Homo sapiens: one gene and its partner. The protein of the gene in region 2 interacts with the protein of the main gene of each other region in a pairwise test. Each region holds a gene or a part of one and is shown on either strand. Other genes may lie near its edges.

Region 1 (3,826 bases), on a different chromosome or scaffold from region 2:
CTGAGGCAGGAGAATCGCTTGAACCCAGGAGGTGGAGGTTGCAGTGAGCCAAGATCGTGCCACTGCACTCCAGCCTAGGCGACAGAGTGAGACTCTGTCTCAAATAAATAAATAAATAAATAAATAAATAAATAAATAAATAAGGAGCAGAAAGCTCGCTGGAAATGCCAAGCGCCTTAACCCGTAGAGCTTCCCTGCCATCCTTGAGCCTCGGGCCCTCTGAACGGGCCAGCGCGGCCTGGGTTTGGAGGCACAGAACGCTGCTCTGTATTCTGACACTGTGAATAATGAAAACCCTTGTGTGGATGCAGGGAGTGGGGGACGGTCAAACTTGCTGAGCTTACTTGCAGGAAAAAGGCTTGTGGTTTTTTTCTTCCTAAGAATAGTATCTGGCTTGTTCCTTTTCACAAAGGAAAATGTTTGAAGTATGGGTATTTGCAGCCGGAGCTTCTCAGTGCCAGTTGCTCGTGGGCAGTGCCATGCTGAGGAACGGGGACAGGAAGCGGGCTCACCCGGAGGAGAAGCCGGACTCAGCACGGCGGCCTTGGCCACTAACTCATGACATTGACCTCACGCCACCTGCAGTTTCATGTTCCACCGCTGAACTTGTTTCTGCTTAAATGGACAGATGCTTACCTGAGTTTTTCTTTTTGGAGTGTTTATATTTTCCAAAAGTGCTTTTATTTTGGTTTATTAACCTTTCTCTTGATCCAGTTTTCCTTTTTCACACCAACTGTTCCAAAGCTCTGTAGTCTGCATTATGTGTGTTTTTTTGTTTGATCCTGTTGACAACTACACAGTTGGGCATTTTTGTCCTCATTTCCCACCTGAGGGAACGGAAGCTCAGAAAGGTGAAGTTATGTCCCCGAGGCTTCACAGCCTGTAAGCTGCAAAGTATACGTTCAAACCTCGGTCAGTGTGACACCTCAGTCCAGAAAGCAGTCACCTGAAATCGGGAGTGAACAGCAGCTACAGTACCTCCTCCCTGTGTCCTTGTTTTCTGCACTGATCTGTTAATCTATTTATTCCATAAAAGTCTCCATCCACAGAAACCCTACAAAGTTTAGGTTTATCAAGCTGACACTTTGAAAACATGCAAAGGGTAAGTTTTCAGATGTCAGCTAAGAGATGTCAAGTCTGAGTTGGGTTGTGGAGTATGTTTATTTATAGAACACCATAATTAACCAGGATTCATGGCCCATCCAGATAAAGCAAGTGCGCCGTTTTAATCAAACTCGAAGTGTCATAAAGGTGACATTTTAATAATATGAAAAGTAGATAGATACTCTTCCCAAAGAGCTCTTGAAGTTTATTTCCCTTCTTTTTCTGTTTGTATATTTTTTTCACATCTCTGTATTTAAGGAACAGGGAAACTTTAGAGTGGGTTTTTGGTTAGCCTCAAAGATCACTTCTTACAATCTCAGTAGACATCCTTCTTGGAAGACGGCTCACACTCTGAGATGCCAATCAGGGTTCATTTCATGATTCTTTAAAGGAAGCTGTTTTGGGAAAGCCCAAAAAAGGGTTTGGAACATGTCATTTACTTTTATTCAGCTATAATTAAAATAGCCAAATTAAAGAAATTAGACTCATACAAATCCCAAACAATGCAAGTTCACTATCAGACCCCACCCTTTAGAAGCGTATTGCCCAAGAATAGGAAAGGCTGTCACCCATTTGGAGATCTTTGCTCAACAAAAATGAGGCAACATTTGAGGAAGAAACAAGTAAAACTGAGAAAGAAGAGGAGAGGTCAGTGATTTTCAAGGTTCACTGTAGTTCTGTGGAATTTAGCTTATTCTTTCAAATGTAGACTCTTCTCAGTCACATGTGATGTGCACAGCCTGGCTTTCTTGTCTATAGGCTGGGCACGGTGGCTCACACCTGTAATCCCAACACTTCAGGAAACCAAGGCGGGCAGATCACTTGAGGTCAGGAGTTCGAGACCAGCCTGGCTAACATGGTGAAACCCCGTCTCTACTAAATGTCATCAAAATGACAAAATGACAGTTTTTCTCTAGGCTAATAACTCAATGAGCAGAAAGGAAAGTCCTCCCTTTTAAATGTATATGAATGTATATGTAGTTCACACTTACACTCTGACACAGATCTCATTGTGTCCAATGATGTGTGTGTGTGTGTGTGTGTGTGTGTCTCCAAGACTGAGACACATGTACTAAAGAGTGATACTGGCCACATCTACTCTGGGCTTGGAGGGTAACTTCAGCAAGTGCTGGATACAAAAATTACAAAAAAAATTACAAAAAAATTACAAAAAATACAAAAATTAGCTGGGCGTGGAGGTGGGCGCCTGTAATCCTGGCTACTCAGGAGGCTGAGGCAGGAGAATCACTTGAACCCAAGAGTTGGAGGTTGCAGTCAACCAGGATCGTGCCACTGCACTCCAGCCTGGGCGACAAAGCAAGACTCCATTTCAAAAAAAAAAAAAAAAAATTCTCCTGTAAAGAAATGAGGCATTTTTTGTGCACCAAATGGATTCAGGCTAAAGCGTGTGAGAATCATGATATAATGGATCATGAAGATCCTGGTATTGCCTAGTCCTCGGCAGGGCTCTAAAAATAACTCAGTCAGCAGCCCTGAGCTACTGTGGATGTGTGTGTGTCAGTGCTTGAGCCCATAAATGGAAGCCTGTCTCTTTGAAGGTTGACCTCAGACAAGTGTGCAGCCCCCTCCGGTCCCCTTTAAGGCTGCACGGAATTACACGTGCCATTGGTGCCAGTTTTGATCTGAGCAGAATAACAAACCCTTGCTCAAGTCAGCTGCCCTTCTCTGCCTCTCACAGTCTCACACTCTTGTTACCCCATGGGTTCATCTTTTGGGTCTCAGGCTTATTAACTGAATTTTTTATATTATCATAAACCCACTTTATAAACGTGCTGATACCCTGGCTTTAAATACTCTATGCAGGTTTCCAGAGCTGGGCTTCCAGCCGCAGGTCTCCAGCAGGTTGCGTTAAGTTTGCAGATGAGCGTGGCACAGTGTGTCACCATGCCTTCCCAGCCCGCCTTCCCCAAACTACTGCCTGATCCTCACATTCCATGAAGCTTTTCATTCCAGCACTGGTCGCTTCCAGCATCCAGCACTCGCTGAAGTTACCCTCCAAGCCCAGAGTAGATGTGGCCAGTATCACTCTTTAGTACATGTGTCTCAGTCTTGGAGGCACACACACACACACACATCATTGGACACAATGAGATCTGTGTCAGAGTGTACGTGTGAACTACATATACATTCATATACATTTAAAAGGAAGGACTTTCCTTTCTGCTCATTGAGTTATTAGCCTAGAGAAAAATTGTCATTTTGTCATTTTGATCCATTTGATTTCCCCCAGTCATCCCCATTAGATGCCTTAGGGCTTCTGCAAGTTTACACAAGGCAAAGGATGACTTGAACAAGATACGAATGTTCAAAAGCCCCCAGGGGTCAATGTAAATTAAACACTTGGAACCCAAATTCATTATATTACTATTTAAATAGAGAGAGTTTATTAATTATTTGGTAAGGAGTAACCAGCCGGGAGCCCTCTCTCTCATTACTGTACCTCCAGCTGTTGGTCTTTGGCCATTAGTTGATAACAAGTTAACATTTGCTCCTCTTTCTAGTGAGCAGAGTGCATTCAAATACATGACCTCTTTTATTCTCATAATAACTCTGTGAGATGAATGTTGTTGTCATTTCTAATTTGTGGATGAGCACGCTGAGGTGGAGATGCCATGCCTGGCCCCAAGTTGCTCAGTGGGTAGGCAGTGGTCACGGGGCCTGAGCCTCATCTTCAAGCTCCAGGTCTAGTCCCCCTCTTCTC
Region 2 (3,780 bases):
GCCCAGGCCAAAGTATGCATGTAATTTTCAGATTTCTATTCAAAGCTAAGAAGATAAACAGCTTCCCTACTGGGGGAATGGTCTTTTTGTCACCTCTTGCTGACTTTGCCCCCTCTACCCTTTTCCCTGCCCCATTGCCCATGCTCCGTATCTCATAGATTATCTTCCTCAAAGCTAATTATTAATAGCACACCTCTGCTTAGCTATCACTGTGGTCCTCTGTTACTCATAAGATATTGTCCAACCTCTTTAGAATAGAGCGCTGAGAGTCTGGATTAGCCCTTCATAGCTTCCACATCCTGCCTAACATTCTACATCTCTACCCTTCCTACCTACCCTGTACTCCTCTAAAACTATTCATCATACTTTGTCATACCCAGTACCTCTGACCATGTTTCCTCTTTCATAAAATGGCCTTCTCTTTTACTTGAACTGATGAATGCTCATTCATTTTCTAAGACTCTTCTTAAACATTTATGGCACCTTTTCCAGTCAGAACTGATGTCACCCACCCTTTCGTTCCCTCAACAATTTGTTGTCAACTCCTTGTGGTCATAATCTGAGGCATCATTATTGTGTTGCTTCCTTCTCTACTGAAGCGACTGGAGAACAGTGACTGTACCCAGCCCAAGGCCTGGAACTCAGTGAAGGCTTAATAAACATTTGTGGAATAAAAATTTAATTGATGAAAACATTAATTATATTCAATCAAAACTGTAATATTCTTATGTTTTAAAATGTCTGTGAATAGAGAACTGAACAAGATTGAGAAAAAAAGTAGATGTTAAATTTTCTTAGATCCCATAGAAGAATAATAATTTCTTTTCTCATCTCCAGATTATCTGTTAGAATACTTCAGTGATGGTCATTTAATAAACAAAATGCCCTGGTAGCATCAAATAGTGTTTAACTTGGGAACATTTTTCAGTTCACCAAGTGATCTAGTGCTGTAAATCCATCCTTGGATAGCTTTAATCTCCTATAATAACCAACACTTAATGCTATTTTAACAGAATCTGCTTCAGACAATGGTATACAAAACTAAAGAAATTATCGATAACTTTTCATAAATAAGCAAACTTGGAAAAGGAAACATTTGGAGATATTTTATTTCTGTGATAAGGAAATCTCACATAAAAGTCTTTATCATTTCATTAATTCACAAAAAGTGTTAAATCAGTTAAAATTAAAGAGAAAAGTTCACACCGAATGAAAGACTCGTTTTGTCTTCTCTTCCCCTGCAATATGAGCAAAAATATATTAAATACTAATTAAACTAATAGGTGCAGTAAGTAACTGGTTCTATTATTTTATATCAGAGAAATATTGGATACGTAGGAAAGTCTTCTGATAGCATTTGTTGAAGTCTTTTAAATAACCAAAAAGGATTTTGCATAGTTGAGCCACTAATTTAACATTGTGTGCGTAATTTTGTTCAAGTGTTTTTAAAATAAACTTTTTTTTGAATTCCATGTATTTTTAAGAGAATTAATGGCACTCCTCATGATCTATCTCATTATGGATTGATATTTCTGGAGAAACAACATTGTATTCAGGCTTGTCTGAATGTTTTGTTACCTGAAGTAATTTAAACTCCCAAAGCAGCACGAGTTTTTGAAATCAGTTTTTGTCCCTGAAAATTAAGAATAAACATAATCAGATAAAGAAATGGATTATTATACCAATCATACAGTTAACACTCTACAATCCGGGGTGAATTCATAGGTTTGTAGATTAACTAAGTTAAAAATGAAGAAACACATCTCTGATGCCAACAACCTGGGATAGTAAAAGCCAGGGAGAAAACAATATTCTTTCACATCAACAGTTTTCTTCTATAACAATCTCCAAATCAATGCGTATTCTCAATCTTTCCCCTTCCTCTACAAATTACAAGTTATTAGAAATTAAAAGGTTTGCAGATAAAGCACTGCTACTATTTGTTCATGTTCTCTATATCTAAATAAATGTCTTCTCAGATTAGAGAACATTAATCTTCTTGTGTCATGTTTTTCAGAAATGCTTCACATCAAATCTGTTTCACCAGTTTTATCTAATTTGGTTATCTATGTCCCACCCTACCTGATCCCACCAAAAACACACACATATACTGGTAAGTGCACACACTCAAATGCATCTAATTATATTATTTATAGAAAAACTCTACATTTCTAAATATATCTGTCTTTGGATTTTACATGGTGAGAAAGGTAAAATTGACAAAAACGCTAAGTTATAGAATATCTTTTTAAAGTATAGTGTTGCTATATTCAAATATATGTAGCAATACAAACTAAAGATTTGTAAAATTTAGCCAATTATCTTGATTGTGATAATCATTTCACAATGTATAAATATATTGAAACATCACATGTTCACCCTAAACATATATAATTTGTATTTGTCAATCATGCCTCAATAAAGCTGAAAAAAGGTAATTTTTTTAAATGTTAGGTAGAATCCCCTGGTTAAAGAAAATCTGGCTAATTATCCAGCTAAAATTACTATGTAATTAAAATAACTCCTAAATACTACTCTGTTGATGTACAAAAGCAAGCTTCTAAATGAGTTCAAAAACATTTTCTACAAATAGACTCCTAATACTCTGTTTGCACAATTAATTTGCTATTAAATCCTTTAATCCATTTAGCTGAATTGATCAATTTTAGGCCAGAAACTATCTAAATTACCGTCAATTATTTACACATTCACTTTATGGGTTTCTCTACTAGGAAATAAATTAAAATTACTAATTCTATTAATATATTTTAATATTATAAATTTTCCTAATATTAAGCAAGAAAATGTGATTATTTTTTAAATCTTATAGAATCCCTCAATCTGCTTCTCAATGAAATTTAAATCTCTCTGAAAATATTTTAAAGTTATAAATTTGTAGGGTCTTCCTTTCATTATCCACTACAGAAAATTCCATAGCAAGTATTTTGAGTATGAAATGAGCTGCATGTACCTCTTCAGCAAAGCAGACTTCCTGTTCCTGGCCTTGGCAGCATTTCTCCAACAGGCCTGAGAAATCTGCAATGACAGCCTCAAGTTGTTCCTCTGTTATTTGTGGCTTTTGCTTCACAAGGTTAATGAGAAACCTGTGATTTAAAACAAAACAAAATACAAGAGAAGTCTGTTATGCAATGCTATTTTTCTACAGCCTTCCTAGTAGAGAATTTTCAGAGCCTAAACCCTTACTCCATCAACCTATCACCAGACTGACCACACACACCTTGTCTAGTACTTTCAGTAGAAAGATTGAGGCTGAAAGCATGCCAAGTGTTCCACCAGCCTGGAGTTGTGCAGGTTGTGGATAAAACACTATTTCATACTTGACCATACTTATGTGTAGTGGAAGGCAATCTCCCCTCATCCCCCAGGAATATCCTTTCCTGTCCGCTCTTCTTAACTGTGTCTTATCTACACTCAAAGACCCAGATCTCCGAATCCTGCCCATCCAGTTATCACACCCCTTATCTGGGCACTGGCAGCACTAATTGCCTGCACTGCTCACTTAGCAAGCCTTTCATGTTGGACTTAGACCAGAGCAATAGAAAGTAGACCAGAGCAATAGAAAAAGCTTGCCAGAACAGGCAACATTCTTATCATACTGTGAAACATACCTCAGACTGTGATAGAGGAAAAAAGAGAAGAATGGGTTTTCCAATGAAGGAAGACTATTTACAAAACAAGTGAGGATTAAAATGCATGGGAGTTTGAAGAACATAAGCTCCATTGACTTGCATGACCATCACCATTACAAAAGAGCTCCCA

Evidence for each region.
Region 1: the proteins of AFP (region 2) and EHD4 interact in a two-hybrid assay, tested with the Homo sapiens proteins (one large-scale study listed by BioGRID and IntAct).

The regions. Positions count from the first base shown.
Region 1 is NC_000015.10:41,913,414-41,917,239, reverse strand, and holds part of EHD4 (EH domain-containing protein 4), read left to right. Parts: intron 1-3,826. UniProt on the Homo sapiens protein: ATP- and membrane-binding protein that probably controls membrane reorganization/tubulation upon ATP hydrolysis. Plays a role in early endosomal transport.
Region 2 is NC_000004.12:73,453,089-73,456,868, reverse strand, and holds the end of AFP (alpha-fetoprotein isoform 1 precursor), read right to left. Parts: intron 3,105-3,780; coding exon 2,972-3,104; intron 1,634-2,971; coding exon 1,589-1,633; 3' UTR 1,579-1,588; intron 1,239-1,578; 3' UTR 695-1,238; downstream 1-694. UniProt on the Homo sapiens protein: Binds copper, nickel, and fatty acids as well as, and bilirubin less well than, serum albumin. Only a small percentage (less than 2%) of the human AFP shows estrogen-binding properties.